Linked DNA regions of Homo sapiens: region 1 is linked to region 2. The links come from fine-mapping of genetic effects on gene expression. A gene starts in region 2. The other region holds a variant in brackets. All regions are shown on one strand. Distances are from middle to middle.

Evidence for each region.
Region 1: its variant is fine-mapped to the expression of TMED1 in whole blood (GTEx, PIP 0.95).

Annotation. Positions count from the first base shown.
Region 1 is chr19:10,734,554-10,750,250 of GRCh38, reverse strand. All of the region lies in intron 1 of DNM2 (dynamin 2), which reads right to left. Among named protein-coding and RNA genes, the nearest start is that of MIR638, 24 kb to the right of the region's middle. RefSeq lists an enhancer at 836-1,650 and a silencer at 11,241-11,310. The variant C/T (reference allele first, on the strand shown) is at 6,391.
Region 2 is chr19:10,831,474-10,846,778 of GRCh38, reverse strand. It overlaps TMED1 (transmembrane p24 trafficking protein 1), which reads left to right and starts at 10,567. Exons shown (of 4, transcript NM_006858.4): 1 at 10,567-10,770; 2 at 11,426-11,523; 3 at 11,662-11,845; 4 at 13,566-14,712. The coding sequence starts at 10,588. The coding sequence ends at 13,784. DNM2 (dynamin 2) reads right to left here. Exons shown (of 21, transcript NM_001005361.3): 21 at 14,876-15,305. It also overlaps a transcript of C19orf38 not described here and the pseudogene HIKESHIP2. RefSeq lists enhancers at 10,293-10,392, 10,158-10,794, 11,432-12,069.

The DNA.
Region 1 (15,697 bases), 97 kb after region 2:
CGCATCGGCCTCCCAAAGCACCGGGATTACAGGTGTGAGCCACTGCACCTAGCCTAGTACTATTGCATCATTTCAGTACCTGGCCTCCTATCCATGGGCCCAGGCCAGGCCCCAGGGTCCTGGCCCAACCTCCCACCTTCCCCAGTGACCTTTCTAAAATGAAGATCCTGCCTCCAAGCTTCTCTCTTGCAGAAACCAAGTGACTGGTCCTAGCCCGTCCTGTCCAGTCCTAGTCCCAGTGCTGACCGGGTTCCCCAGCCCCACCCCCTGCACCTGCCTCCTCTGAGTTCTCTCTGGCACTGCTGGCCTTCAGGCCTTTGCAGGGGGTGTTCCCTCTGCCAGGAAACCCTCCCATAGGCCCTGCCTACCTGGCCATGGGCAGGTGTGATGGCTTGCGCCCCTCCCTCCCAAATACACACCCCTTCCCACTCCCAGCAAAACGGCCTCTGATGAAGGTCTAGTCCTGTGACACGCCAAGACTTCTGCACCTGGCCTGGTCACTGCTAGATCCTCAGCACCTAGAACAGTGCCTGCCAGACAGTGTGTGCTCATTAAGTATTTGTTGAATGGGTAAGAAGAATCCAGACTGTGGAGCCAGGCAGCCTGGGTTCAAAGTCGAGCTCCGCCCCTCCTGGGCTGTGTGGCCCTGGACAGGTCTCTACCCCTCTCTGGGCACTGACTTGGCCATCCATGAAATGGGAGGACACTTCCAGTCTGCCACAGAGGGCCCAGCCACCGGCTTGGCCTGGCTCAAGTCACTTCACCCCACCAGAGCAGGTTTCAGAGCTCTAAAGTGGGCCACCTCTCCCTGGAAGGGGATAAGCGCTCCAGGAAGGCGGTAGGGGACAGGCAGGGAAGGGTGCAGCTGGGAGGCAGCACCCAGCAGCGATGGGAGAGGTGCCAGGTTGAGTCCAGCAGATCAGAAGCCCAGGCTGTTTATTTACCGTTTTTTGAACAGACCACAAGGCTCCACCAGGCGCCTTTTGACTTCCAGCCCCTATGAGGGTGGGGACGGCTACGTGCAGGAACGATGCAGGCTCAAACCCAGAGCCTTCCCATGGGAGGGAGAATCAACAGATAAGCCCACAGAGGGTGAGTCAGCAGTGTGGCCCAGAGCCAGCACCCCAGGGCAAGCCACCCCTCACCTGTGCAGCCTGGTGCTGGCAGGGCCTGGCCAGGACCCTGGGCTGGGATCCCTTCCTTGTCACCATATGCTCAGCACAGTCTCTTTGAGCCTGAATGTGGCTGGGAGGGCTCACGTGACACCACAGCCAGCCTTCAGCATGGCACTGGCCACAGGAAGAGGCTTCGGCAGGAGCCCACACTCCAGGGCCAATTTCCACCCTGGCCTCTTCTCTCAGGACTCTGATAAGAGCCACACAAGGAACGCTGGCCACCCAACAGGCTGTCTCTAACCCCATCTCGGGCAACATAGCGGCAAATCCTCTGACAACCCCAGAGGGGTTGAAAGTCACAAGGATGCCAGGGCCAAAAGTCCCATTTCAGACAGGTGGACTGAGGTTCAGTCTCAGGACTTGCCCAGGACGCTCAGCGAGGGAGGAGCAGAGCCAGGACACGAATGTGGGTGGGACACCAATGAGGCAGACCCGCAGTCACCCGCACCCACCTCAGGGGCTTCTCTGTCGCTCTGTTGGAGCAGAAGTGGGGACCCATGCCCAGTCTCCTCTGCCCACCTCGGTCCCTGCCTCATCCTTCCAACAATAGCCATTGGTCACCCAGCAAGGACGCCCAAGCCTTACAGTGCTCGGCCCACACAGTGTCCGCAGGTAGGTGCCACTGCATCCCTGTGGTCACCCCAAAGGGCAGGGAGGGGAGAAACCCCTCACGAGGCTGCAGACCTGGGGCTCCCCTGGCCCTCACCCACCCGCCTTGTCCAGCCGCGAGTCCTGCTGGTTTCACCTCCACATCAGGCCTGATTCTGCTCAATTCCCTCCACGTCCAAGGCTGTCAGCGTGTCCCACTGTCACCTGCCTACACCAGTGCAGTCGTGCCCTTGGTCCCCACAATCTGCCTCCCACAAAGCAGCCACAAGGTGCCTGTGCACACCATGTCACTGTAAACCCCTTTGTTATGGGCCCTCCTTGGGCTCCCGCTTCACTTGGAATAAAAGCCAGACTTTTCCCTGCAGCCCCCCAAGCCCTGCACGACCTGTCCTGTCACCTTCCTGTCCTCACCTCCCCCTACTCTCTGTCTTGCTGGCTTTACTCCAGCCACATATGCCTCCTCCATGTTCCCGAAACACACCAGACACTGTCCTGCCCCAGGGCCTTTGCCCAGGCTGTTCCCTCAGCCTGGAACCTTCTTCCTGCAGCATTAACAGAGCAGGCGGGCAGCTCCCAGCAAACTGCACCCTCCCTCCCCCCGCCATAGGAAGCTGCTCCCCTTCTTTCACACATCAACCCGCTCAATGCTCAGTGCCACTCACAACTGGCATCTTCCGGGTTCCTGATGTGTTCACCCAGCTGCAGTCTGTCCCTGCCCCCACCTCAACATCCTATTAGAGTGGCAGCCTCATGGGCGCAGGGTCCCGTATCGGCCCCTTCTCTGCTCTCTCCCCAGTACCCAACACACACCCAGGCAGGAGGCAGATGACCAATGCTTGCAGAACAATGGGCCAAATCTGCCATTTTACAGATGAGGAGACTTCTCACTTCCACAATCCACTCCTGGCCTCACTCCTCCCCAACATTCCCAGCCCAGCAGCCCCTCCCTGATCAGGAATCCTGCAGCTCCCGGCTCGAGGCCCGCCCTTGGCACTCAAGCCGTGGCATCACCTGCTCCCTGGTCTCATCCAAGGGACACAACAGGCTGGGAGCAAAAGCAGGAGGTGACCTGTGGCAATTCGTGATCGTGGCTCTGGGACTCTCCAGGCCCTGGCTGGAATCCAGTATTTCCTTTCTGGACAAGATGGGCAGGTCAGGTAACCTCTTTGTGCCTCAGTTTCCCAATCTGTTATGTGGGAATGATGCCACCTGCCTCAGAGAGGAGGTGGAAGGGTTTGTGAAACTCTTACCATGATACCCAAAAGAGAACATTCGCCCCATCGAATCAAAGTAAAACTCAGGCTGAGCACAGTGGTTCGTGCCTATAATCCCAGCACCTTGGCACGCAATCTCTTGAGCCCAGGAGTTTGAAACCAGCCTGGGCAACATGATGAGACCCTGTCTCTACTACTAAAAAAAAAAAAAAAATTGGTTGAGTGCGGTGGCTCATGCCTGTAATCTCAGCACTTTGCGGGGCCGAGGCGGGCAGATCACCCGAGGTCAGGAGTTTGAGACCAGCTTGGCCAACATGGAGAAACTCCGTCTCTACTAAAAATACAAAAATTAGCCAGGCGTGGTGGTGGGCACCTGTAATCCCAGCTACTCGAGAGGCTGAGGCAGGAAAACCGCTTGAACCCAGGAGGCAGAGGTCACAGTGAGCTGAGATTGTGAGATCATGCCATTGCACTCCAGCCTGGGCAACAGAGTGAGACTGTCTCAAAAAAAAAAAAAACAAAAAACAAAAAAAAAGCCGGCACGGTTGCTCACACCTGTAATCCCGGCACTTTGGGAGACCGAGGCAGGTAGATCACCTGAGGTTGGGAGTTCGAGACCAGCCTGACCAACAGGGAGAAACCCCGTCTCTACTAAAAATACAAAATTAGCCAGGTGTGGTGCATGCCTGTAATCTCAGCTACTCGGGAGGCTGAGGTGGGAGAATCGCTTGAACCTGGGAGGCAGAGGTTACAGTCAGCCAAGATCACACCATTACACTCCTGCCTGGGCAATAAGAGTGAAACTCCATCTCAAAAAAACAAAAAGGAAAACTCGATACAATGTAAGAACATGACCCTCCTCTGCTCATAACATTTGACGGTTTGACAGTTCCCAAGTGCCCCCCATGGCCCTGTCACCTCCGTGCCCTCCTCCCCCACCACCCCCTCACTCCCTGCCTCCAGCCACATTGGTGGTCAAGAAACAGCAAAAAGGCCGGGCGTGGTAGCTCACACCTGTAATGCCAGCACTTTGGAAGGCCGAGGTGGGTGGATCACCTGAGGTCCAGAGTTCGAGAGCAGCCTGGCCAACATGGTGAAACCTTGTCTCTACTAAAAATACAGAAAAATTAGTGGGGTGTGGTGGCGTGTGCCTGTACTCCTAGCTGCTCAGGAGGCTGAGGCACGAGAATCGCTTGAACCTGGGAGGCAGAGGTTGCAGTGAGCCAAGATCATGCCACTGCACTCCAGCATAGGTCAGAGTGAGACTCCGTCTCAAAAAATGAAATAAAAAGAAACAGCAAGGAGGCCAGACATTGCTGTCGCAGGGCCTTTGCACATGCTGGCCTCCTGCTTCGAAAGACCATCTCATCTCCTCCAAGTATTTCCACAATCCTGGCTATCTCCGGTTACCAGGGACTCAACTCAGATGTCACCTCCTCAGAGAGGTCTGTCCCCTACTGATGCCCACCTCCCCTTCATGTTGCCCTGTTTTCCTTCTAAACACAGCACTGCCCACTAGTTGGTACTTTTCTGGTTTATTTGCACCTCTTTTTTCAGAGACAGGATCTCACTCTGTCATCCAGGCTGGAGTGCAGTGATGCAATCATAGCTGACTGCAGCCTCAAACTCCTGGGCTGAAGCGATCCTCCTCCCTCAGCCTCCTGAGTAGCTCGGACTACAGGCACTTGCCACCACGCCCAGCTAACTTTTTTTATTTGTGTTTTTCTGTAGTGATATGCTGCCTAGGCGATCCTCCCACCTCAGCCTCCCAAAGCCCTGGGATTTCAAGCGTGCCCAGCCTAATTGCTCATTTATCTAACAGTCCCAACTAGAATATCAACACCTTGAGGGCAGGGGTCTTAAGCGCCCTTTCCCCAGCACCCAGAAACATATTAATGCAGTGGTTTGGCAAGGACAGCCGACTCCCTGAGGGCAGTACTTTGTGGAATGAAAACCGATAATGACCTAAATGTCCACTGGCAGGGAACTGGCTAAATCAATCTTGGGAGCTAGTCCGGGGAGCAATGCAGGCTGCAGTGCCGAAGGTCAAGTGCGATGCACGGACTGGATTATGCGTGGGGGATGATGTCCTCCACTTCGGGTTTTTTTTCCGCACATCCCCATTTCCTGTGTATGGACAGCAGGCTTGAGGTCATGTGAGGTGTGCAAATGAAAAACTTGCTGTTTTATAGTCTCCAACGTGATTTGAATGTCAGGCTTTTATAACTTTTTTATAACTGTGATTGCAGGCCAGTGTTGACCTTGTAACTTTCAGCAGTACTGAGAAACCCCAAAGAAACTGGCCGGCCCAGCAGCATTTTCAAGAGTGACGGGGAAACTGCTCAAATGTGGGGTCCTGGAGCTCACAACTCCGCCCTCCTAGGGGTGTCCTCGGTGTCATCCTAACTGCTCCCCACTGCAAGGGGTGGCCTGAGTACCCCAGCCAGCCTGGTGAGTGCCAGCTGTGGGACCTTGTTAGCAAAGTCTCTCCCATCTTGCAACAGGTGTCCTGCTCTGTAAAACGGTTGTGGTGAGGACTGGAGGAGACAGTTCCAGTTGCCAGGGCAAAGTGAACGCTCACTGTGTCTGCAGCCCTTACAGGGTGGTCAGCCATGTATGGATTTCCAGCTCTGTACCACCCTGAGGGCCCAAGTGAACTAGAGGCAGGCAGCCGGGCACCACCCACAGTCTGCATTCCACAGCCAGCCTCCTGGAGCCCCTTCCTTCCAGGGGAGTAGGTAGTGACCTCCAGGCAAACACGTTCTAGTTCCCTCCACCCCGAGACTCTCCCGGGGTGATGGGGAGCCAGCCCATAAGGAAATATCCAGGCAGACTCAGTCCACAATGTCACAAGTGACAGGAACAGCCCGGACCCGTTCTTGAGGTCTTTGTCCCACCCCCACAGCGTATCTCTCGGCAGATCCTGCCTTGGATATCCAGACCCATCCCCTCCTCCTCTGTTTCGCTCTAATGTCCTGAGGCCAAGTCTCCCATCTCAGGGCAAAGCCTCCCCCAGGCTCCCTGCCCCACAGGCTTGGAAAACTGCAAGTCAGATCACACTGTGTGCCTGATTTTTAAAGAATTTTTTTTTTTTTTAGATGGAGTCTGGCTCTGTCACCCCAGCCGAAGTGTAGTGGCAGGATCTTGGCTCATTGCAACCTCCGCCTCCTGGGCTCAAGTGATTTTCCTGCCTCAGCCTCCTAAGCAGCTGGGACTACGGGCGTATGCTACCACGTCTGGCTAATTTTTGTATTTTTTTTTTTTTTCTGGAAACAGTCTCGCTCTGCTGCCCTGGCTGGAGTGCAATGGCGTGATCTTGGCTCACTGCAACCTTGCCTCCCGAGTTCAAGCAATTCTGCTGCCTCAGCCTCCCAAGTAGCTGGGACTACAGG[C/T]GCACGCCACCACACACGGCTAATTTTTTTTTTTTTTTTTTTTTTTTTTTTGAGACAGAGTCTCGCTTTGTCACCCAGGCTGGAGTGCAGTGGCGCAATCTCGGCTCACTGCAAGCTCCGCCTCCCGGGTTCATGCCATCCTCCTGCCTCAGCCTCCTGAGTAGCTGGGACTACAAGCACCCGCCACCACACCCGGCTAATTTTTTGTATTTTTAGTAGAGACGGAGTTTTACCATATTAGCCAGGATGGTCTCGATCTCCTGACCTTGTGATCCACCTGCCTCCGCCTCCCAAAGTGCTGGGATTACAGGTGTGAGCCACCACACCCAGCCACACCTGGCTAATTTTTGTATTTTTAGTAGAGACGGGGTTTTGCAAGGCTGGTCTCGAACTCATGACCTCAGATGATCCGCCTGCCTCAGCCTCCCAAAGATCTGGGATTACAGGTGTGAGCCACCATGCCTGGCCGCATGATGTTTTTTCTCACCCGAGCACCTGTGCTTCCTTCCCACCCCTCAGGCCCCCAGCTAGAGCATCAGCTCCACAGGACAGGGATCTCGTCTGTCTTGTTCACTGCCCTGCCTCCAGCACACTATCTGGCACACAGCAGGTGTTCAGCAAATGCTAGCTGCACGGCAAAAGAAGCTGGCATCACGGCCGGGCGTGGTGGCTCACACCTGTAATCCTAGTATTTTGGGAGGCCATGGCAGGCGGAACACCTGAGCTCAGGAGTTCAAGACCAGCCTGGGCAACATGATGAAACCTCGCCTCTACAAAAAATTAGCCGGGCGTGGTGGCACACGCCTGTGGTCCCAGCTACTTGAGAGGCTGAGGTGGGAGGATCACTTGAGCCCAGGAGGTTGAGGCTGCAGTCAGCGGAGACTGAGCCACTGCACCACAACCTGCATGACAGAGGGAGACTCTGTCTCAAAAAAAAAAAAAAAAAAGAAAGAAAAACAAGCTAGCATCTCCAGGGCACTGCACAAAGCTCCAGGCACACAGGGCCTTCTTCCACCTTCACAGGGCTCTGGCCAACCCTGTTTTGCAGATGGGGAAACCAAGGATAGAGAGATTAAGTCATCCGGTCTATTGGCACACAGCTAAGAGCAGCCCTCCTGACCAATGAGGCACCAATCCAACCTGCGTCTAATCTCCATCTGCCAGGCACCATCCCGGTCACCACACAGCACTTCCAGGGGCACACAAGGAAAGGAAACCTTGGACTCCAGAGACAGGAAGGCCAGGCTCAGCTTCCTCATGGGGACAACTGAGCAAGATCATTGGGTGAAGACTCTGCAGCCTGGCAGCTCAGCCACAGCCTCACGGCAGGAACTGAATGAAGGCTGCCACTTCCCCAGCCCTCAGTTTCTCTATGAAATTGGGATAACAGCACCTACACTATGGGGTTGTCAGCAGGACAAACCCAGGGTCTAGCACGCATAAGGCCCTATTCCACAGGACTAGTTCACTAGTTCATGAGGGTGACGGGGGTGGGAGTGAAGGATGTCAATGCCTGGCACCACAACAGGCACAGACCCTTCTTCTTGGCACCCCAGCAAAGAGCCTTGGCACAGCCTTTCCTGGTGGGCCTGGCAACATCACTCTAAATCCACTTCTGATGCAACATGGCACTCCCTTGCAGGGTATCCACCCTGAGCATAGCAGACACACAAGCCTGCGGACCCCCAAGTCTCTGGCAGGAGGGGAAAAACTAGAAATAACCTAAAAATTCAAGGGGGAGAGTGATCAGTGTTAGTGGGAGTAGGCTCGACCCAGGAATACTTGCAGCTATAAAAAAGCACAGGACTCTCTCATGATGCTGCAATCAAGCAAAAACAAAGAAAGAAAAAAAGAAAGAAGGAAAAGAAAGAAGGGTAGAGGAAAAAGAAAAGAACAAGAACAAAAAGGAAGGAAGGAAGGAAAGAAGGGAGGGAGGGAAAGAGGAAGGTAAAGAGGAAGGTAAAGAGGAAGGGAGGGAGGAAGGAAAAAGCACAGAACAAAAGAAATATTGGCCAGGCGTGGTGGCTCACGCCTGTAATCCCAGCACTTTGGGAGGCAGAGGCGGGTGGATCACAAGGTCAGGAGATAGAGACCATCCTGGCTAACACGGTGAAACCCCGTCTCTACTAAAAATACAAAAAAAATTAGCCGGGCATGGTGGCGGACACCTGTACTCCCAGCTACTTGGGAGGCTGAGGCAGGAGAATGGCGTGAACCCGGGAGGCGGAGCTTGCAGTGAGCCAAGATCGCGCCACTGCACTCCAGCCTGGGCGACAGAGCAAGACTCTGTCTCAAAAAAAAAAAAAAAAGAAAGAAATATTGGCCAATTTGGGGCTGAGCACAGTGGCTCATGCCTGTAATCTCAGCACTTTGGGAGGCCAAGATGAGAGGATCACTTGAGCCCAAGAGTTCAAGGCCAGCCTGGTCAATATAGCAAGACCCTACCTCTAGAAAAAATACAAAAATTAGTCGGGTGTGGCACACGCCTGTGGTCCCAGCTACTCGGGAGGCAGAGGTGGGAGGATCATGTGAGCCCAGGAGACAGAAGCTACAGTGAGCTATGATCATGCCACCACGTTTCCAGCCTGGGAGACAGAGCAAGACCGTGTCTCCAAAAAGAAAAGAAAAAAGAAAGAAAGAAAGTTGGAGACTTCAATACCCCACTTTCAATCATGGATGGATATCAGCATTGGTATCAGGCAAGAAAAATAATAATAATGGATGGAACAACCAAATAAAAGATAACAAGGAAATAGAAAATACGAAACCAATAAGACCTGACAGATGTGTACAGAACACTCCACCCAAGAGTAAAATACACATTCTTATCATGTGCATATGGAACATTCTCCAGGACACACCGTATTCGAGGCCAAGCCATAAAACATGACTCAATAATTTTAAAGAGATTGAAATCATACAAAGTAGTTCCTCCAACCACAGTGAAATGAAGTTAGAAATGAACACAAGAAAGATGTTTTTCAGAAATTCTCAAATATATAGAAATGAACATACTGCTAAATAACCTATGTATCAAAGAAGAAATCATAAGAGAAATGAGAAGATATGCTGAGATAAATGAAAATGAAAACACAACATATCAAAACTTATGGATGCAGCTAAAGCAGGTTTACAGGGAAATTCATAGATGTAAGCAACTGTATTTAAAAAGAAGGAAGATTTTGGCCGGGCGCGGTGGCTTACGCCTGTAATCCCCACACTTTTAAGAGGCCGAGGTGGGTGGATCACCTGAGGTCAGGAGTTTGAGACCAGCCTCACCAACATGGTGAAACCCCGTCTCCACCAAAAATACAAAAATTAGCCAGGCATGGTGGTGGGTGCCTGTAGTCCCAGCTACTCAGGAGGCTGAGGCACGAGGATGGCGTGAACCTGGGAGGCGGAGCTTGCAGTGAGCCAAGATCGTGCCACTGCACTCCAGCCTGGGCGACAGAGCGAGACTCCGTCTCAAAAAAAAAAAACAAAAAAAAGAGAAAGATTTCAAATACTTTCAGATTTCAATAATCTTCCACTTCAAGAACCTCAGAAAAGGAGGGTAAACCAAATCCAAAGAGAAAAGAAGGAAATAATTAGAGAAGAAATAAAGAGACTAAAAAAATGGAGAGAGAAGTTAACACCACCACAATTTGCTCTTTGAATAGATCAACCAAACTGACAAACCTTTAGCTAGATTAACCAAGAGAAAAAGAGATAAGACTCAAATTACAAAAATCAGAAATAAAGAGGAGACATCACTACCAACCTTTCAGAAATAAAAAAGATGATAAGGGAATACTATTCTAACAAATTAAATACACCCTAGATGAAATGGACAAATTCCTAGAAAGACCCAAATTACTGAAACTGACTCAAGAAGACACAGAAAAACTCAATAGATGTACAAGAAATTTAATTAGTATTCAAAAAACGTCCCACAAAGAAAAGTCCAGGCCCAGGTGGCTTCATTGGTGAATTCTTTTTTTTTTTTTTTTTTTTTTTTTTGAGAGAGAGAGAGAGTCTTGCTCTGTTGCCCAGGCTAGAGTGCAGTGGAGTGATCTCGGCTCACTGCAACCTTGCCCCCCAGGTTCAAGAGATTCTCGTGCCTCAGCCACCCAGAGTAGCTGGAATTACAGGCATGTGCCACTACACCCAGCTAATTTTTGTATTTTTAGTAGAGAAGGGGTTTCACCATGTTGGGCAGGCTGGTCTCATCAATTCCTGCCCTCAAGTGATCTGCCCGCCTCAGCCTCCCAAATGCTGGGATTACAGGCGTGCGCCACTGCACCCAACCAGCATGGATGAATCTTGAAAACATGATGCTAAATAAACAAAGCCACACACAAAAGGCCATATACTGTAAGATTCCATTTATAGGAAATATCCAAAATTGGCAAATTCACAGACAGAAAGGACATTAGTGGCTTCCAGGTGCTGGGGGAGGGAGGAACTGCTTCATATGTATGGGTTTAGGGGAAATGAAAGTGCTACAAAATCAGATAGTGGTGCTGGTTACACAACTGTGAATATACTAAAATCCACTGAATAGTATATTTCAAAAGGATTAGGTATTATGGTATGTGAATTATATTTCAATAAAAATATTTCAGGAAAATAAAACAGTACAGGAGTTCCCCATGTCCCCATAGAAGAACAAGGGAACACGTCCTTCTTTTATTTATTTATTTATTTTTGAGACGGAGTCTCGCTCTGTCGCCCAGGCTGGAGTGCAGTGGCGTGATCTCGGCTCACTGCAAGCTCCTCCTCCAGGATTCAAGCCATTCTCCTGCCTCAGCCTCCTGAGTAGCTGGGACTACAGTACAGGCGCCCGCTACCACGCCCCGCTAATCTTTTGTATTTTTAGTAGAGACGGGGTTTCACCGTGTTAGCCAGGATGGTCTCAATCTCCTGACCTCGTGATCCGCCCACCTCGGCCTCCCAAAGTGCTGGGATTACAGGCGTGAGTCACTGAGCCCAGCCTTTTTTTTTTTTTTTTGCGATGGAGTTTTGCTCTTGTTGCCCAGGCTGGAGTGCAACGGTGCGATCTCAGCTCACAGCAACCTCTGCCTCCTGGGTTCAGGCACTTCTCCTGCCTTAGCCTCCCAAGTAGCTGGGATTACAGGCACCCACCACCACGCCCAGCTAACTAACTTTTTTTTGTATTTTTCATAGAGATGGGGTTTTGCCATGTTGGCCAGGATGGTCTTCAACTCCTGACCTCAAGTGATCCACCCGCCTCAACCTCCCAAAGTGCTGGGATCACAGGCGTGAGCCACCACACCAGGCCAGGTCCTTCTTAAAGAGTAACAACCGCTGGGATCCCCAGGAAGGGCCTGGCCTCCAACTGTGGCCAGTCCTCATCCCACCCTCCTGTAGCCCTCCCTCCCCTGTTTTTTTTGTTTTGTCTGTTTTTGTTGACATGAGGTCTCACTATATTGCCCAGGCTGGTATCAAACTCCTGGGCTCAAGCAATCCTCCCACCTCAGCCTCCCAAAGTGCTGGGTCTATGGGCGTGAGCCACCATGCCCTGCCACCTCGTGCCCTTTGATACTGATCTCAATGAAAGTCTCCACTTCCTTTTTATTTATTTATTTATTTATTTATTTTTTGAGATGGAGTCTCGCTCTTTCACCCAAGCTGGAGTACAGCGGCGTGATCTTGGCTCACTGCAACCTCCACCTCCCAGCCTCAGATGATCTGCCCACCTCGGCCTTCCAAAGTGCTGGGATTACAAGCATGAGCCACCACGTCCGGCCTACTTCCTTCTGTTGTGAGACTAATGCTTGTCTCCTCTGCCAGGCCTAACTCCTCTTGGTGGCAACCAGGCCTGTTTGACTCCAGAAGGGTGGCAGTTCAGGTCAGAGCCTGGCACAGAGCAGGCTCAGCAGACATTGCTGAGTGGGTCTTGCTCAGTGATTGACAAGTACATCAATGAGTGCATCCCGAGAGGGAGATGGGTGCCCCGATTACCTATCGCATGCCAGGCACCATGCAAGGGACTGCGCTACAGCCAGGGGCACCGCCCTACCATGGGGCATTCCCCTTCTAGTGGGGGGAGACAGAAAGAGAAATCAAACAAATAGGCCGGGTGCGGTGGCTCATGCCTGTAATCACAGCACTTTGGGAGGCCAAGGCTGGCAGATCACCTGAAGTCAGCAGTTCGAGATCAGCCTGGCCAACATAGTGAAACCTCGTCTCTACTAAAAATACAAAAATATACGGGCATGTTGACGTGCGCCTGTAATCCCAGCTACTTGGGAGGCTGAGGCAGGAGAATCGCTTGAACCCGGGAAGCAGAGGTTGCAGTGAGCCAAGATCGCCACTCCACTCCAGCCTGGGAGTCAGAGCAAGACTCCACCCCAAAAAAAGAAAACAAGAAACCAAACGCATAGGTGGAACAATGACAGGAATGACAAGTGGTTCCAAGAAAAATTAAGCAGGGGAAGGGGACAGAGAGAACAGGGTGGGGCGTTTGAGCAGAGTGGCCAGGGGGAGAGCCTTTTGAGAAGGAGGCTTTTAAGCAGAGGCCTTAGAATGCTGATGAAATGAGCCACAGGGTTATCTGGGGGAAGGGCAGTGCAGGCAGTGGAAGCAGCATGTGAAAAAGCCATGAGGTAGGACAGCGCCTCACCTGCATGAGAACATCATGGAGCCTCAGGGACGACTTCATTTTTACCCTGAGGGAACTGAGGGCCAGGGAGGATTCCAAGTAGAGGAAGGATATAGGGTCTCCCTCTGTCTCCCCGGCTGGAGTGCACTGACAGGATCACAGCTCACTTCAGCCTCAAATTCCTGGGTTCAAGCAATCCTCCCACCTCAGCCTCCTGAGTAGCTGGGACTGTAAGTATGCGCTGCCATGCCTGGCTAATTTTTAAATGTTTTGTAGAGATGGGGGTCTCGTTATGTTGCCCAGGCTGGTCTCGTACTCCTGGGCTCAAGAGATCCTTCCACCTCGGCCTCCCAAAGTGCTGGGATTACAGCGTAAGCCACGGCGCCCAGCTAGGAAGGATATTCTTAACAGGCTCCCTCTGTCCACTGCAGGGAGAACAGCCTGGGGGTGAGGACAAGGTTAAAGGTGCAAGACTGAGGAGGCAGAAACTGTACTGGTCCTGGGGAAGTAGTGACAGTGGATGGAATAATACACAGTTATAAAAACCAGTACCAGCTGGGCACAGTGGTTCACGCCTGTAATCCCAACACTATTGGCACACCAGCCTGGGTGCCAGAGAGAGACTTTGTCTAAACAAACAAACAAACAAACAAAAAACTAATACCGTGGCTTTCCACGTACTAATACACAATGATCTTTTCTATGAAATCAACAAGCTGATTCTAAAATATATATGTGGAGGCAAAGGAACTAGACTAGACAAAACAATTTTGAGAAACAAGAAAAAAGAGGACTCACATGGCCTGATTTCAAGTCTTACTATAAAGCTACAGCAATATAGAAATGAGTGGGCGTGGTGGCTCACGCCCATAATGCCAGCACTGTGGAAGGCTGAGGCAGGAGCATCACCAGCCCAGTAGTTTGAAACCAGCCTAGGCAACATTGTGAGACCCCATCTCTATTTTTTTCTTTTTTTCTTTTTTTTTTTTTTTGAGACAGAGTCTCACTCTGTTGCCCAGGCTGGAGTGCAATAGCGCGATCTTGGCTCACTGCAACCTCCACCTCCCGTGTTCAAGTGATTCTCCTGCCTCAGTCTCCCAATTAGCTGGGATTACAGGCACCCACCACCACGCCCAGCTAATTTTTTTGTATTTTTAGTAGAGACGGAGTTTCACCATGTTGGCCAGGCCAGTTTCAAACTCCTGACCTCAAGTGATCCACCTGCCTCCAAAGTGTTAGGATTACAGGCGTCAGCCACTGTGCCCAGCCCCCATCTCTATCTAAAAAGAGAAGAAAGATATGTGGTTTTGGAGAAAGGACAGAGCCATACATCAACGTCACAGAACAGACAGTTCAGGTTGGACCCACACAAATATGGCCAACTAATTCCAGACAAAAGCAACTTTAGGGAGAAAGGATGGTCTTTTCAATAGTGCCAGAAAAGGCCGGGCACAGTGGTTAATGCCTGTAATCCCAGCACTTTGGGAGCCAGAGGCAAGAGGATTATTACATGAGTCTAGGAGTTTGAGACTAGCCTGAGCAACACAGCGAGACCCCATCTCTTGAAAAAAAAAAATTAGCCGGGCGTGGTGGTGGGCGCCTGTAGTCTCAGCTGCTCAAGCGGCTGAGGCAGGAGAATCGCTTGAATCCGGGAGGCGGAGGTCGCAGTGAGCCAATATCACACCATTGCACTCCAGCCTAGATGACAGAGCGAGACTCTCCAAAAATAAAATAAAAATAAAATTTTCCATGATCCCAAAGGATAGAGTATGAAAAGAAGAAAACTAGTAACTTTCCAGTGGGGAAACCTAGCAAGCCTACCTCAGCCAAGAGATCAAGGTCAGCATCATCAGTTATCACTGTCAATAATTTATCAGTCTTGTTGGTATCCTATACTCCTGATAAGATTCACAGAAGATGGCTGGACGAGGTGGCTTACGCCTGTAATCCCAGCACTCTGGGAGGCAGAGGCGGGCAGATCATGAGGTCAGGAGATCGAGACCATCCTGGCTAACACGGTGAAACCCCGTCTAAAAAAAAATACAAAAATTAGCCGGGCATGGTGGCAGCCTGTAATCCCAGCTACTCGGGAGGCTGAGGCAGGAGAATGGCGTGAACCCAGGAGGCAGAGCTTGCAGTGAGCTGAGATCGCGCCGCTGCACTCCAGCCTGGGCGACAGAGCAAGACTCCATCTCAAAAAAACAAAAACAAAAAACAAACAAACAAAAAAAGATTCACAGAAGAGAGGGGCACCTCACCAATGGCCTTCTTCCCCAAAACTCACACCCCAGGCTCACCATGAAGAATTCCAGATAAGCCCTAATTGAGGGACATTCCATGACTTACCAAGGTTATAAAAAACAAGGAAGGGCTGAGTTGCTTCCCAGACCAGAAAAAGGCTTAAGGAGATCCGACAACTAGATGCAATGTCCAGTCCTAAGACAGGAAAAGGGGTGATTTTGTTTGAAAAATAAAATTTCTCAGTATGTATACTTCCAGACAGCAAGACCCCCATCTCGATAAAAAAAAAAAATTTTTTTTTAAATTAGTCTCATATGGGAAAAATTGAAGAAATCTGTACATTCTGGCTTTGGCTTTTTTTTTTTTTTTTTTTTTTTGAGACAGGGTCTGGCTCTGTTGCCCGGGCTGGTGTGCAATGGTGCAATCATCACTCACTGCAGCCTCAACCTCCAGGGCTCAAGT
Region 2 (15,305 bases):
AAGGAATTTGCTCATTTCATCAGAGTTGTCAAATGTATTGGTGTAAAGTTATTTATATCCCCTTACTATCCTTTTAATGTCTGTAGGGTCTGTAGTGATGTTCCTTCTTTCATTCCTGACACATAAATTAGTGAAGTCTCCTTGTCTCTTATCGGTCTTCCTAGGAGCTAATCATTGTTATTGATCTTTTCAAAGTGCCACAGTTTGGATTTGTTGTTTTATTTTCTATTTTATTGCCTTTTGACTTGACTTTATTCTTTTCTTTTTTCTGGTTACCTTATGTTCAATTGGCTCTTCTTTTCCTAGCTCATGTTTTGTTTTTAAATTTAAACTTCACCAGCAGAAATTTGTATTAATAGCTTCTTAAGATGGATGCTTATATAAACTCTTTTTATTAAAAAAAAATTTTTTTTAATTAGCCAGATGTGGTAGTGGGTGCCTGTAGTCCCAGCTACTCGGGAGGCTGAGGCTGGAGAATGGCGTGAACCCGGGAAGGAGAGCTTGCAGTGAGCTGAGATCATGCCACTGCACTCCAGCCTGGGCAACAGAGCGAGACTCTGTCTCAAAAAAAAAACAACAAAAAAACATTTTTTTTTTGAGACAGGGTCTTGCTCTATTGCTCAGGCTACAGTGAAGCAGCATGATCATGACTCACTGCAGCCTCACCCTGCTGGGCTCAAGAGATCATCCCATCTCAGCCTCCTGAGTAGCTGGGACTACAGGTGTCCACCACCACACCTGGCTAATTAAAAAAAAAAAAATTGTAGAGACAGGGTCCTATTATGTTACCCAGCCTGATCTTGAACTCCTGGGCTCAAGCAATCCTCCTGACTCAGCCTCCCAAAGTGCTGGGATTACAGGCAGCTCATTAACTTTAAACCCTCTTTTTTTTTTTTTTTTTTGACGGAGTCTTGCTCTGTCGCCCAGGCTGGAGTGCAATGGCGTGATCTCGGCTCACTGCAAGCTCTGCCTCCCAGGTTCACGCCATTCTCCTGCCTCAGACTCCTGAGTAGCTGGGACTACAGGCACCCACCACCATGCATGGCTAATTTTTTGTATTTTTAGTGGAGATGGGGTTTCACCATGTTAGCCAGGATGGTCTCGATCTCCTGACCTCATGATCCACCTGCCTCGGCCTCCCAAAGTGCTGGGATTACAGGCGTGAGCCACCGCACCCGGCCCACCTTTATCTTCTAATACAAGCATTTAAAGGTACACCTTTCCCTCCAAGAACTGTTTTAACTGCATGCCACACATTTTCATATATTGAGCGTCATTAAGTTAGAAATATTTGCTTATTTCCATTGTGCTTTCTTTTCTATGATCCAGAGAATATGTGTGTTGCTTAATGCCCAAGTACTTGGGCTTTTTGGGGGGCAGCTTACTGTTAATGATTTTTAACTCCTTTGTGGTCATATAATTTCAATACTTTGAAATGTACTGACTTTTTAGAATGGTGCAGGGTATCTCGATCCACATTGTACGTACGCTAGAAATTCAAGTACACGGTGTAGTTGTTTGGTATAATATTCTCTAAATATTAATACAATTTGGTCAAGGTAGTACACAGAATATTCTTGAATTTATTGAATTCATCCTCATGCCTTTTTTTTTTTTTGGAGACAAGGTCTTGCTTTCTTGCCCAGGCTGCTGGAGTGCAGTGGTATAATCATGGCTCACTGCAGTCTCCATCTCTCAGGCTCAAGTGATCCTCCCACCTCAGCCTTCCAAGTAGCTGGGACCACAGGCATGCACGGCACCTGGCTAAATTTTTTTTTTTTTTTTGTAGAGAAAGGGTCTCACTACATTGCCTAGCTGGTCTCAAACTCCTGGGCTCAAGTAATCCTCCCACCTTGGGCTCCCAAAGTGCTGGGATTACAGGCGTAAGCCACCACCACGCCCAGCCTCCTTCATTTTTTTTTTTTTTTTTTGAGATGGAATCTCGCTCTGTCGCCCAGGCTGGAGTGCAGTGGCGCAATCTCGGCTCACTGCAAGCTCCACCTCCTGGGTTCACGCCATTCTCCTGCCTCAGTCTCCCGAGTAGCTGGGACTACAGGCAACCGCCACCACGCCCGGCTAATTTTTTGTATTTTTTAGTAGAGACGGGATTTCACTGTGTTAGCCAGGATGGTCTTGATCACCTGACCTTGTGATCTGCCCGCCTCAGCCTCCCAAAGTGCTGGGATTACAGGCGTGAGCCACTGCACCCGGCCTTTCTTTTTTTTTTTTAAACAGAGACAGGGTCTTGCTATGTTGCTCAGGCTGGTCATGAACTCCTGAGCTCAAGCAATCCTCCCACCTTGGCCTCCCAAAGTGCTGGGGTTACAGGCGTGAGCCACCACGCCTAGCTTTTTAAATTTTTTTTTTTTTTTTTTTGAGACGGAGTCTCACTCTGTTACCCAGGCTGGAGTGAAGTGGTGCGATCTCATCTCACTGCAAACTCCACCTCCTGGGTTCAAGCGATTCTCCTGCCTCAGCTTCCTGAGTAGCGGGGATTACACGTGTGCCACCATGCCTGGCTAATTTTTGTATTTTTAGTAGAGACAGGGTTTCACCATGTTGGTCAGGCTGGTCTTGAACTCCTGACCTCGTAATCTACCCACCTCAGCCTCCCAAAGTGCTGGGATTACAGGCGTGAGCCACCGTGTCCAGCCTTTTTTTTTTTTAGACATGGTCTCACTTTGTCGCCCCGGCTGGAGTGCAGTGGCGCAATCTCGGCTGCACTGCAACCTCCATCTTCCGGGTTTAAGTGATTCTCCTGCCTCAGCCTCCTGAGTAGCTGGGATTACAGGCATGCACCACTACGGCTGGCTAATTTTTGGATTTTTAGTAGAGACAGGATTTCACCATGTTGGCCAATCTGGTTTTGAACTCCTGACCTCGAATGATCCGCCCACCTCCCGAAGTGTTGGAATTATAGGCATGAGCCGCCATGCCCAGCCTTCATGATATCTTAACACAGCTTTCCTCCTCCTCTCGGAGCACAAGGATGGGGTCTGTGTTGTTACCTGCAGTGTCCCGTGTCTCCCACCATGCTTGGCACATCATAAATATTTCTCAATCATCTGACCTGACAGCGAAAAAAAACATCCATTCAAGCCACTTCTGTGGCTGTATACTGGGTGTACAGGAGATGGAGTTAAGAGAGATTCCTGGCTTATTTTTTCCACCAACTGAGTACTGAGCATCATCATGTTCCCAGAATTGTGCCAGAGACATTAGGATGAATGAAAATGGCTCCTGTCCTCAAGGAGCTCAGCGTTCAAGAGTCAGACAAGAAGACAAGGAGAGTCCAGTGGTGAAGTGCAGTAACAGAGGCAGTGGCCGAGGGGGCTCAACCCAGCTACAGCAGGGTCAGGGAAGCCTTCTGATTGATATTGATAGTGGCAAGAGGCAGACAAATGCCTAGGCAGATAGGGGCAGGTCCCTGGTGAAACCCCACCTCCAAGCCAAAGACAGTTTAAAGCCTGAAAGCAAAGCTACAAGTCAAATCCAGGGACTGGACAGAGAATCTGTCTTCTATTTGGCGTGCTTTCCTCAGATTGATCCCCACCCTCCACCTAGTTTGCATATACCTACCCTTTCCTAATTGGTTTTCTATACTGTTGGACCCACCTTTGAGTGGTGTCTTCGCTTTAACCTTTTTTGCACACTCACAATCCAATCAGCACACATTCCCCATTCTGAGTCCATAAAAAGCCCCGGATCCAGCCACACTGAAAGATAAACCACACCCCCACATCTCCTCTTTGCTGAGAGCTGTTCTGTCGCTCAAAAAAATTCTCCTCCCATCTTCACCCTTCAATTGTCAGCATTTCCTCATTCTTCTTGGATGCAGGACAAGAGCTTGAGAACTGCCGAATGCAGATACAAGCTATAACACAGGTGGGCTGAGTGGGCAGGGTGCCTCCAGTGTCATGCCCTTGCGGGTGGTAGGGGGCACTGCCGGCCATAGATGTCCCCGGCTGGCAAAGTGGCTAAGAAAAATCCTGAGTCAATATGGTGAAGGAATCTACAACCTGGAATTCTGGTTTTTTTTTTTGAGACAGGGTCTCTCTCTGTTGCACAGGTTGGAGTGCAGTAGTGCAATCATGGCTCACTGCAGCCTCAACCTCCTGGGCTCAAGCGATCCTCCTGAGTCAGGTTCCTGTGTTGCTGGGACTACAGGCGTGTGCCACCATGCCCAGCTACTTTTTTTTTTTCCATTAAAAATTATTTTAGCCAGGCGCAGTGGCTCACGCCTGTAATCCCAGCACTTTGGGAGGCCAAGGCCGACGGATCACGAGGTCAGGAGAACAAGACCATCCTGACTAACACGGTGAAAACCCATCTCTACTAAAAATACAAAAAATTAGCCAGGCATGGTGGCGGGCACCTGTAGTCCCAGCTACTCGGGAGGCTGAGGCAGGAGAATGGTGTGAACCCGGGAGGCGGAGCTTGCAGTGAGCCAAGGTCGCGCCACTGCACTCCAGCCTGGGTGACAGAGTGAGACTCCGTCTCAAAAAAAAAAAAAAGTATTTTATTCAAATTATGTTTTCCAAGAGATGGTTCTGTGGTAGTCATCACTGAAAGTTTTCATACCATTTCAGAACCACATTTGCCGGAATGAACATTTCAGATGGGCTTGGTGTCATCTGGGCCTGAGTGAATGAGTCAACTGAGGATACAGCAGCATTACCTACGGGAGTCTGCTGAGCCATACTGTCCAATAATTCCACTGAAATTCCAATCTGAGCAACAGATGGAGTTCGGACAATATTCATGGCTCCAAAAGGATGTTGGCTTCCTTCTCCAGATTTAAGACCTGAAATTTTGAAGATGGCACTTGGCTTCCCATTCGTGACAAATCCTAGGAGTTGCCACACTGGCATTCCATTTGAATCAGGATAAGAAAAGTAGACAGATCCTCCCATTCCCTCAGGAAATGGGATTGTTCCCATGCCCAGCTAATTTTTTAAAAAATGTTTTTGTGGAGATGGGATCTCACTATGCTGCCCAGGCTAGTCGGGAACTCCTGGGCTCAAGAGATCCTCCCAACTTGGCCGCCCAAAATGCTGGGATTACAGGCGTGAGCCACTCCACCTGGCTTTGACAGTGTCTGTTTTATTCACTGTCAGAGGCTCAGTAAATATTTGGTGAATAATTAGGGAGGAGAGTTTTTGGTTTTGTTTACTCAAGGGACATGGTCTCGATCTCCTGACCTTGTGATCTACCCACCTCGGCCTCCCAAAGTGCTGGGATTACAGGCGTGAGCCACTGTGCCCGGCCGCGAGAGGGTATTTTTTTGTGTGTGTTTATGAGACAGGGTCTCACTGTCACCCAGGCTGGAGTGTAGTGGGCCAATCATGGCTCACTGCAGCCTTGAACTCCTGGGCTCAAGCGAGCCTCCCACCTCTGCCTCCTGAGTAGCTAGGACTATAGGTGCATGCCACCACAACTGGCTAATATTTTATTATTTTGTAAAGATGGTGGTAGGAGCGGGAGAGTCTCTCTACGTTGCCAAGGCTGGTCTCAAACTCCTTGGCTCAAGAGATCCTCTGGCTTCAGCCTTCCAAAGTGCTGGGATTACAAGCATGAGGGTCCAGCTAGAGAAGTTTTTTTGTTTCACTTTTCTATCTTTTCCTCTCTATAATATGTGTTTAAAAAACCTCCTACAACAAAAAGATGAACAACCCAATTTTTAAATGGGCAAAAGACATGAATGGATACCTTTCCAAAGAAGATATACACACCACCGAGAAGCAGATAAGAAGATGCTCAACCTTACTAATCATTTGGGAAATGCACATACACTAGGTTGGCTATAATAAACAAACAAACAAACAAACAAAAAATACAAAACAGGGCCGGTCACAGTGGCCCACGCCTGTAATCCCAGCACTTTAGGAGGCCGAGGTGGGCAGATCACTTGAGGTCAGGAGTTCGAGACCAGCTTGGTCAACATGGCAAAAACCTGTCTCTAGGCTGGGCGCGGTGGCTTACGCCTGTAATCCCAGAACTTTGGGAGGCTGAGGCAGGCAGATCACGAGGTCAAGAGATTGAGACCATCCTGGCCAACATGGTGAAACCACGTCTCTACTAAAAATACAAAAATTAGCTGGGCATGGTGGCATGCGCCCATAGTCCCACCTACTCAGGAGGCTGAGGCAGAAGAATCACTTGAACCTGGGAGGCAGAGGTTGAAGTGAGCCAAGATGGTACCACTGTACTCCAGCCTGGCAATACAGCAAGACTCCGTCTCAAAACAAAACAAAACAAAAACAAAAACAAAAACAAAAATCTGTCTTTATTATAATTACAAAAATTAGCTGGGTGTGTTGGCATGTGCCTGTAATCCCAGCTACTTGGGAGGCTGAGGCAGGAGAATTACTTGAACTTGGGAGATGGAGATTGCAGTTACTGCACTCCAGCCAAAGTGAAGGAGTGAGACTGTCTCAAAAACAAAACAAAACAAAAAACAAAATGCAAAGTAACAAGTGTTGGTGAGGATGTAGAGAAACTGGAACCCTCATACGTGGTTGGTGGGAATGGAAAACAGTACAGCCACTGTGGAAAACACTTTGGTTGTTCCTCAAAAAGTTAAACATAGAAATACCATAGGATCCAGCAATTCCACCACGAGATCTATACCCCAAAGAACTGAACGCAAGTAATAAAATACACATACATACATGTTAACAGCAGCTGTACTCACAATAGCTAAAAGGTTGAAATAACTCTACTGTCCCTCAATAATGAATGGCTAAAGAAATTGTGGGGCCAGGCACAGTGACTCACAACTGTAATCTCAGCGCTTTGGGCACTGAGGCAGGAGAATCACTTAAGCCCAGGAGTTAAAGACCAGTCTGGGTAACACAGGGAGACCTCTTGTCTCCACAGAAAAATAATTAGCCAGGTGTGGTGGCGTGCACCTGTAGTCCCAGCTACTTGGGAGGCTGAGGTGGATCACATGAGTTCGGGAAGTGGAGGGTGCGGTGAGCTGTGATCACACCACTGCACTCCAGCTTGAGTAACACAGCGAGACTGTCTCAAAAAAAAAAAAAAAAAGAACAAAAGAAAAATTGATTGTGGTATGTACATACAATAGAATACTACTCAGCCATAAAAAGGAATTAAATATTGATACATGGTCTAACCCTAGAAACATGCTAAGTAAAAGAAGTTCAATACAAATGGTGACACATTGTCTGCTTCTATTCATATGAAATATCCAGAGTAGGTAAATCCCTAGAGGCAAAAAGCACATAGCTAGTTGAGAGGCGGGGGGCAAAGTGTAATGAGGAGTTGATACAGGAGATAGAAAGTATTTAGGCAGGCAGTGAGGGCAAAGAGTCCTCAGCAGAATTTCTTTTCTAACAGAAAGTAGCCCCTGATATCATTTCTTTTCTAATAAATAGCAGCCTGAAAACTCAAGCTGCAAACATAGATAAGGAAGCTGGAAGCTTGCACGTGGGAATGCTGGCAGCTGCACCAACAGAAAATGGCTACCTGGGAGCCAGGCATATCCAACACGGAGGCTCCATCTCCCCTTTTTTGCTACCACGTGTACAGGAACTAAGAAATGGGCAACATGGGGCTGGTCAAGGTGGCTCACACCAGTAATCCCAGCACTTTGGGAGGCCAAGGTGGGCGGATCATGAGGTCAGGAGTTCAAGATCAGCCTGGACAACATGGTGAAATCCTGTCTCTACTAAAAATACAAAAAATTAGTTGGGCGTGGTGGCAGGCACCTGTAATCCCAGCTACTGAGGCGGGAGAATCCCTTGAACCTGGGAGGCGGAGGTTGCGGAGAGCCTAGGTCACGCCACTGCACTCCAGCCTGGGTGACAGGGCAAGACTCTGTCTCAAAAAAAAAAAAGAAAAAAAAAGAAAAAGAAATGGGCGATGTGGCACAGCTCAGGTAGAGACCCCGGCTGCATAATAAAAGATTAGCAGATACCAGAAATTCACACCCTATGCAAATGGCACACCTGTTCTAACCAGTTTTTCATCCCCTATGTAAATCAGGCTAAGTCTCCTCACCAGCTCATCTATAAACCCCCCTGTATTTTGCTATGGACCAGCAACCCATTTTTCTGGGACTCCTCTCTGTAGCAGAGAGCTATACTCTCCGTTGCCTATTAAACGTTCGTTCTCAACCTCATTCTTTTGTGTGTCCTGGTCCTTGTTCTTCGTGGCTGTGAGACAACGACCCCGGGTGTTACTCAAGACAACGAGGCCGTTTCAGAATCACTGCTTAATGGGTACAGGGATCTTTACTGAGCCGATGAAAATGTTTTGGAACTACATAGAAGTCACTGCACAACACTGGAATGTACTAAATGCCACTGAATTGTTAATTTTAAAATGGTTATTTTTATTTTCTTTTTGACACGGAGTCCTGCTCTGTCGCCCAGGCTGGAGTGCAGTGGCATCATCTGGGCTCACTGCAAGCTCCGCTTCCCAGGTTCACACCATTCTCCTGCCTCAGCCTCCAGAGTAGCTGGGACTACAGGCACCCGCCACCACGCCTGGCTAATTTTTTGTATTTTTGGTAGAGACGGGGTTTCACTGTGTTAGCCAGGATAGTCTCGATCTCCTGACCTCATGATCCGCCTGCCTTGGCCTCCAAAAGTGTTGGGATTACAGGTGTAAGCCACCACACCCGGCCTTAAAATTGTTAATTTTATGCAATGTGAATTTTACTGTATTTAAAAAAATCAATTTTAGTAATCCCAACACTTTGGGAGGGTGAGGGAGCAGGCAGATGGCTTGAGCCCAGGAGTTTGAAACCAGCCTGGGCAACACAGGGAAACCTCATGTCTACAAAAAATTAGTTAGGCATGGAGGTGTACACCTGTAGTCCCAGCTACTCAGGAGGCTGAGGTGGGAGAATCACTTGAGCCCAGGAGGTAGAGATTGCAGTGAGCCATGATGGCGTCACTGCACCCCAGCCTGGGCAACAGAGCAAGACCCTGTCCTAAAAAAAATCCGGCCGGGTGCAGTGGCTCACGCCTACAATCCCAGCACTTTGGGAGGCCGAGGTGGATGGAACAGAAGGTCAGGATATCGAGACCATCCTGGCTAACATGGTGAAACCCCCTCTCTACTAAAAATACAAAAAATTAGCCAGGTGTGGTGGCACGTGCCTGTAGTCTCAGCTACTCGGAAGGCTGAGGCAGGAGGATCGCTGGAACCCCAGGAGACGGAGGTTGCAGTGAGTCGAGATCGCGCCACTGCACTCTAGCCTGGGCAACAGAGGGAGACTCTGTCTCAAAAAAAAAAAAAAAAAAAAAGGAAAAAAAAATTAAAAAAAAAAAGAAAAAAAAGAAAAGGAGTCACCCGTTCTCCACTGTTACTTCAAATTGTCCAAGCAGTGAGTGTAAATGATAGAAAAAGTTGGAGTGAAAAGGAATACCAAACTGATATTACAAAGAGCTACTTCCCCAAATTCTCCAAATGCAGGAAAGTGCTGACAACAGCCAGCTGTATTTGAGGGATCTTTGTCATCACCTGCCAACCTTTTCCGGGTTTATCTTTGAAGACTAAACATCTCCCTGTACACAGTTTATGTTTAGACGGGAACCAAATAACAGATTATTATTTACTGAGGGCCTGTGATGTCCCACGCACTGCGGAAGCAAGCACTCAACAAGCATTTCACGTATCCTAAAGACAGCCCAGTAGCGTAGGCCTATTATCCCCATTTTGCAGAAGAGGAAACTGAGGCTCAACAGAGGGAATGCCTCAAGTAATGGGTGGGGCAGGAGCTGAACCAGGCAACGTGGCTCCCAGTCCCACACTGTCCTTATCTCTTCCTACCTGGGCTGTCGTTTTTCTGACCCGAGGCTACTGTAATGGCTCTATTTACCTGCTGGCCCTTGAGTCTGAGACCCTTGGGGTGCATGGTGGGGCCACGCCCCTCCACTGTCTATAAGCCAGGAAAGCTGAGCACTCAATATGAACCAAGCCTCATCTCAATTCTCACAGCCGCACTACAGGGTGGTCGTTCCATCACTCCCGACTTACGAGGAAACTGATACGCTGATGCCTCTAAGGCGCAAAAGGCGTCGAACCTGGACCACGCTCACAGAGCAAGCAAAACACGACGCCACAGGTATCTCCGCCCCGCCCCAGCCCTTTTATAGGCGAGCCCTACGGGTCGCGTACAGGGCCACGCCTAGACGCTATTTTTGGGTCCACTCCACCACGTCGGTCCCGCCAAAGGTTGTCACGCGCGGCGCACTCTGGGAAAACCACGTGGAGGTGACTAAAAAGGACCCTGCCGCCTGTAACTTTAGTTGTCTTAGCTACTGCCTACAAAAGATGCGCCATCATGGCACTTATTTTTGTAATTTTCCTCCACCAGCGGCCGAGAAGAGAGCCGAAGCCTTTGAGAAAAATATTCCCAGACGGTTGAGTGTTTCTGGGCACATCAGGCATTCATTCGGGCCGCCTGCCCTCTAGTGGGGGGGTCCTTCACTCCTGGCACCTCTGGTTACGGACAACATACAGAAGCCACTGCCAATGAGCTCCGCCGAGTAGCACCGGGGCAGGGCTAGCGCTTAAAGGAGCCGCGACCCCTTTGCAGACCAGAGGGTGACCCGGATGATGGCGGCCGGCGCGGCCCTAGCCCTGGCCTTGTGGCTACTAATGCCACCAGTGGAGGTGGGAGGGGCGGGGCCCCCGCCAATCCAGGACGGTGAGTTCACGTTCCTGTTGCCGGCGGGGAGGAAGCAGTGTTTCTACCAGTCCGCGCCGGCCAACGCAAGCCTCGAGACCGAATACCAGGTAGAGGGTCGCGGGCTGGGCGGCCAGCAGAGTCAGGGAGAGGGGGCGTGGCCAAGCGGTCGAGGCGAGGCGCGCTTTAGGAGGAAGGGGGAGGAATCCGTGCTTGGGAGCGCGGGGGCGGAGCTAGAAAGAGATGGACAGATGGGGCGGGGACGGTGTGTGGGAGCGGAAGGGGAGGGAGTAATGAAGCAGGCGGGGCTAGAGTAAGAGATCCAGAGGGGGCGGGGCCATCGATAAGTATAGGGAGCCTCTGAGAGGACAGGACTCTGGCTGGTGGGCGTGGCGATAGTGCTGATAGGTCAACTGCGGGGGCGTTGCCCACACAGGCCTTTCTCGGGGGTTAGACTAAGGAAAAAGGCTGGGCCTATCCTCTTTCGGAGGCGGAGCCAACCAGGGGCGTGGTCAGGTAAACGTCCATTAAGTACTTTTGGTAGGTGCGTGGTCAGCTGAAAGTATGGACCCCAAGCTGTCATATCAATGAGGGTGGAGGCAAGGGGCGCAGCCACTGGGACAGGTTGGGGCGGGTGTGGGTGTGCCGCCGTTCAGGTAAGCCCTTGGTGGTCTGTATTGATCAGTGTTGGTTCAGCCGTAGCCCTCTTCGGCAGGCGCCCTTGGCCTACCGCTAGCCCTCCACCCGCTCTTACCTGCCCCCCAGGTGATCGGAGGTGCTGGACTGGACGTGGACTTCACGCTGGAGAGCCCTCAGGGCGTGCTGTTGGTCAGCGAGTCCCGCAAGGCTGATGGGGTACACACGTGAGTTCAGTCTTGATGCCTGCCTGGGTTCAGTTACAGCCCTGCCCTTCCCAGGCGGCCTCAGGTTACCGCCCTGACTGCCCCGCTGAGTCGGCTGGCTGGCCACCCTGGGTCATGTCTGTGTGTCTGTCTGCCCAGGGTGGAGCCAACGGAGGCCGGGGACTACAAGCTGTGCTTTGACAACTCCTTCAGCACCATCTCCGAGAAGCTGGTGTTCTTTGAACTGATCTTTGACAGCCTCCAGGATGACGAGGAGGTCGAAGGATGGGCAGAGGCTGTGGAGCCCGAGGAGATGCTGGATGTTAAAATGGAGGACATCAAGGTGTGTCCAGGCTGCGCTGGGGCCACTCCTTCCAGATCTCTAGGATTCACCTGGGGTGCCCCCCTTGGGCTGACCCAGCCTCCCCTCCGTAGTTGTGCCCTCCAACTGAATTATAGTAAGAGTAGCAGCTCTTAAAATAAGTAGTTCATTTCAGGCCGGGCACGGTGGCTCACGCCTGTAATCCCAGCACTTTGGGAGGCTGAGGCGGGTGGATCACCTGAGGTCAGGAGTTTTGAGACCAGCCTGGCCAACATGGTGAAACCCCGTCTCTACTAAAAATACAAAAATTAGCCGGGTGTGGTGGCGGGCGTCTGTAATCCCAGCTACTCAGGAGGCTGAGGCCAGAGAATGACTTGAACCCAGGAGGTGGAAGTTGAACCTGGGAGGCAGAGGTTGCAGTGAGCCGAGATCGCACCATTGCACTCCAGCCTGGGCAATAAGAGCAAAACTCCGTCTCAAAAAAAAAAAAAAAAAAAAAAGTAGTTCATTTCTAGGTATAAACCCTGGTGTAAAGGTTTAAGGAACTCATATCATAAATAACTCATACCGTAAATCTCCAAACCACCTTGTGAAGCAGACCCTGTGCTCAAGTCATCCCCATTTTACAGGTGGAGAAAGTGAGATACAAGATGGCTGAGCAACTCACGGCCACACAGACCAACTAGCAGAGTTGGTATTGAACCCATGCTGGTTTCAGCAACTATGCTCTTAACCACAAGCAAATATGTTCTGTACATTTATTAGTATTTTAATTAACTACTTATTTATTTATTTTCTAACAGATCTCTCTTGGTCACCCAGGCTGGATTGCAGTGGCACGATCTCAGCTCACTGCAACCTCTGCCTCCCAGGTTCAGCCAATTCTCCTGCCTCAGCCTCCTGAATAGCTGTGCCACCACGCCTGACTGACTAATTTTTGTATTTTTAGTAGAGACAGGGTTTCACCATGTTGGCCAGGCTGGTCTCGAACTCCTGACCTCAGGGGATCTGTCTGCCTTGGCTTCCCAAAGCTCTGGGATTACAGGTGTGAGCTACGGCGAGGCAAGGTCTTGCTGTGTCACTCAGGCTGGAGTGCAGTGGTGTGATCATAGCCCATTGCAGCCTCAAACTCCTGGGCTCAAGCAATCCTGCCACCTCAGTGGGACTACGGGTGTGCACCACCATGCCTAATTTTTTGTTTTCTGTAGAGACGAGGTTTCACCATGTTGGCTAGGGTGGTCTTGAACTCCTGGGTTTAAGTGATCCTCCTGTGTTTGGATTACAGGTGTAATCTTGCTTCAGCCTCCTGAGTAGCTGGGATTGCAGTTGCACATCACCACCCCTGGCTAATTTTTTGTAGAGATGGGGTTTTGCCATGTAGCCCAGGCTGGTCTCAAACTCCTGGGCTCAAGCGATCCTCCCACCTCAGCCTTCCAAAGTGCTAGGATTATAGGCATGAGCCACCATGCTCATCCTTGTACATTTATTTAGGCATTAAATGTTCACAGCAATTTGGAAGCTTATAGAAGAGGAAACAGGCTCAGATAGGTTAATTAAGTTGCTCATGGTCACAGCCAGTGAGTGGCAGGGTGAGGATTTGAACTTAGCCTGAACAAGTCTGTGTTTGCAGCTGTACCTCCCAGGGTTAATACAGCCTCCCTCCGTATCCCCCGGTTTTTTTGGTCTCTGCTCCCTGATGGGTGGAGGGAGGCCTGACCCTTCCCCTCCCGCTGCCCTGTAGGAGTCCATTGAGACCATGCGGACCCGGCTGGAGCGCAGCATCCAGATGCTCACGCTACTGCGGGCCTTCGAGGCACGTGACCGCAACCTGCAAGAGGGCAACTTGGAGCGGGTCAACTTCTGGTCAGCTGTCAACGTGGCGGTGCTGCTGCTGGTGGCTGTGCTGCAGGTCTGCACGCTCAAGCGCTTCTTCCAGGACAAGCGCCCGGTGCCCACGTAGCCCCTGCCATGGAAGGAAGAACGGGACAAAGGAGGGGCAGCAGGGTGTGTGCATATGAGACTTGGGGGTCCCTCCCCAATTTTAGTTTCCTGCCAAAACGGGAGTGTGCAGTCAGGGCCTGCGGTCTGGCCCCATGAGTCTCCTTCCGTCCTCAGCGGGCAGGGAACACCTCTGGCTTGTAGAAGGGACGGCTCAGTGGCTGCACCGACGGTCCTGGAAATCTCACATGGTGGGCACTGCAGCGTTGGAACGTGAGCCTCGGATTTCCTGGCCCCTCTACTGTAAATGTGCCTTAGCCTAAGCCTCCCATCCTGTGTTAGCGTTGCCTGGTGCGGGGCAGGGCCTAACAAGGAAACCTGGGCCCTCCAAGCCAGGTTGAGGTCTGGTAACAGAATGCCAGGAAGGGGGCCTGGAAGACCACCTGCCCCGGCCCCTCTCCTGCAGGGGCCCCACACAGGCATGAGGGATGGCCCGGCCAAAGTCTAGGCAGAAGCCTCCTATAACAAAGGGTGGTGTGGCCTGGGCATTGGAGTCAATAAATTATGGTCAGAAAATCACAAGAGCCTGCTGATTGGGGCTCAGGGACACCAGCCAGGACAGACCGGCCCCCGAGGGGGCAGCCAGACAGGTGGGAGGGGCCTCCCACGAAGCTCAGAAGAAAGGTCGTGCGGGAGCCGATGGAGGTGGTCGCCTGGCACAAGAGAAAAATCAGAAAGCAAAGTTTAACTGAGCCCCAGTTGGGCCACGAGGCTTGGGCTTCCCCACGAGGTGAGAGAAGCAGGGCCTGAGGGTAGGAAGGGGGTGGAGCGCTGGGGTCCCCGCTTCACCAGGCAGCAGCCAGGCCTGTGCACGTGGGGGTGTGCAGGGGGTCAGAGAATATCTGCTCCCACTCCTCACATGCTAAGGAAAGTAAAAGCTCTCCCCTGTATCGAGTGGCTTCCTCTGAAAGGTGACACCCCCGAAAGCAGAGCCCTCAGGGAGATGGGAGGCACTTATGAGTGCAGGGACTTGGGCATCCTTATGGGAGGCCTGATGGAGGTGGCACCCATGTCCCCAGCCTGAACACTAACACAAGAGGCCCACACAGCAGCCACCAGCAGCGTCTTCCCTTTATTTTAGTTTATTAATAGAATACAGAGTGCAGGCACTTACAGTGGTCAAACTGAGCGAGGAGTGGGTGAGGTCTCCTCAGAGAGAGGCCGCCCTGGGCCCACCCATCAGGGAGGCATGGGCGGGAGCTGAGAGGCCCCCAAGACCCCCCGCCACCACCACCCACATAGCCCAAGCCCAGCCACCCTGGGGGACCCAGGAGGAGGAGGAGGAGAGGAATAGGGCAAGGCCGGCCCGGGCCAACGGCTCCGGGCCTAGCAAAGGCACCTCTGGCAGCCGAGGCTGGGCCAGGCTCAGGCTGTGTGGTTAATATGGCCGGGAAGGACTATGTACACCTCAGGCCTGCCAGCTGGGCACTACCGAGCCCACTGGGCCAGGCTTGCCGCTGGGGAGCTCCTGCTAATGGGAAGT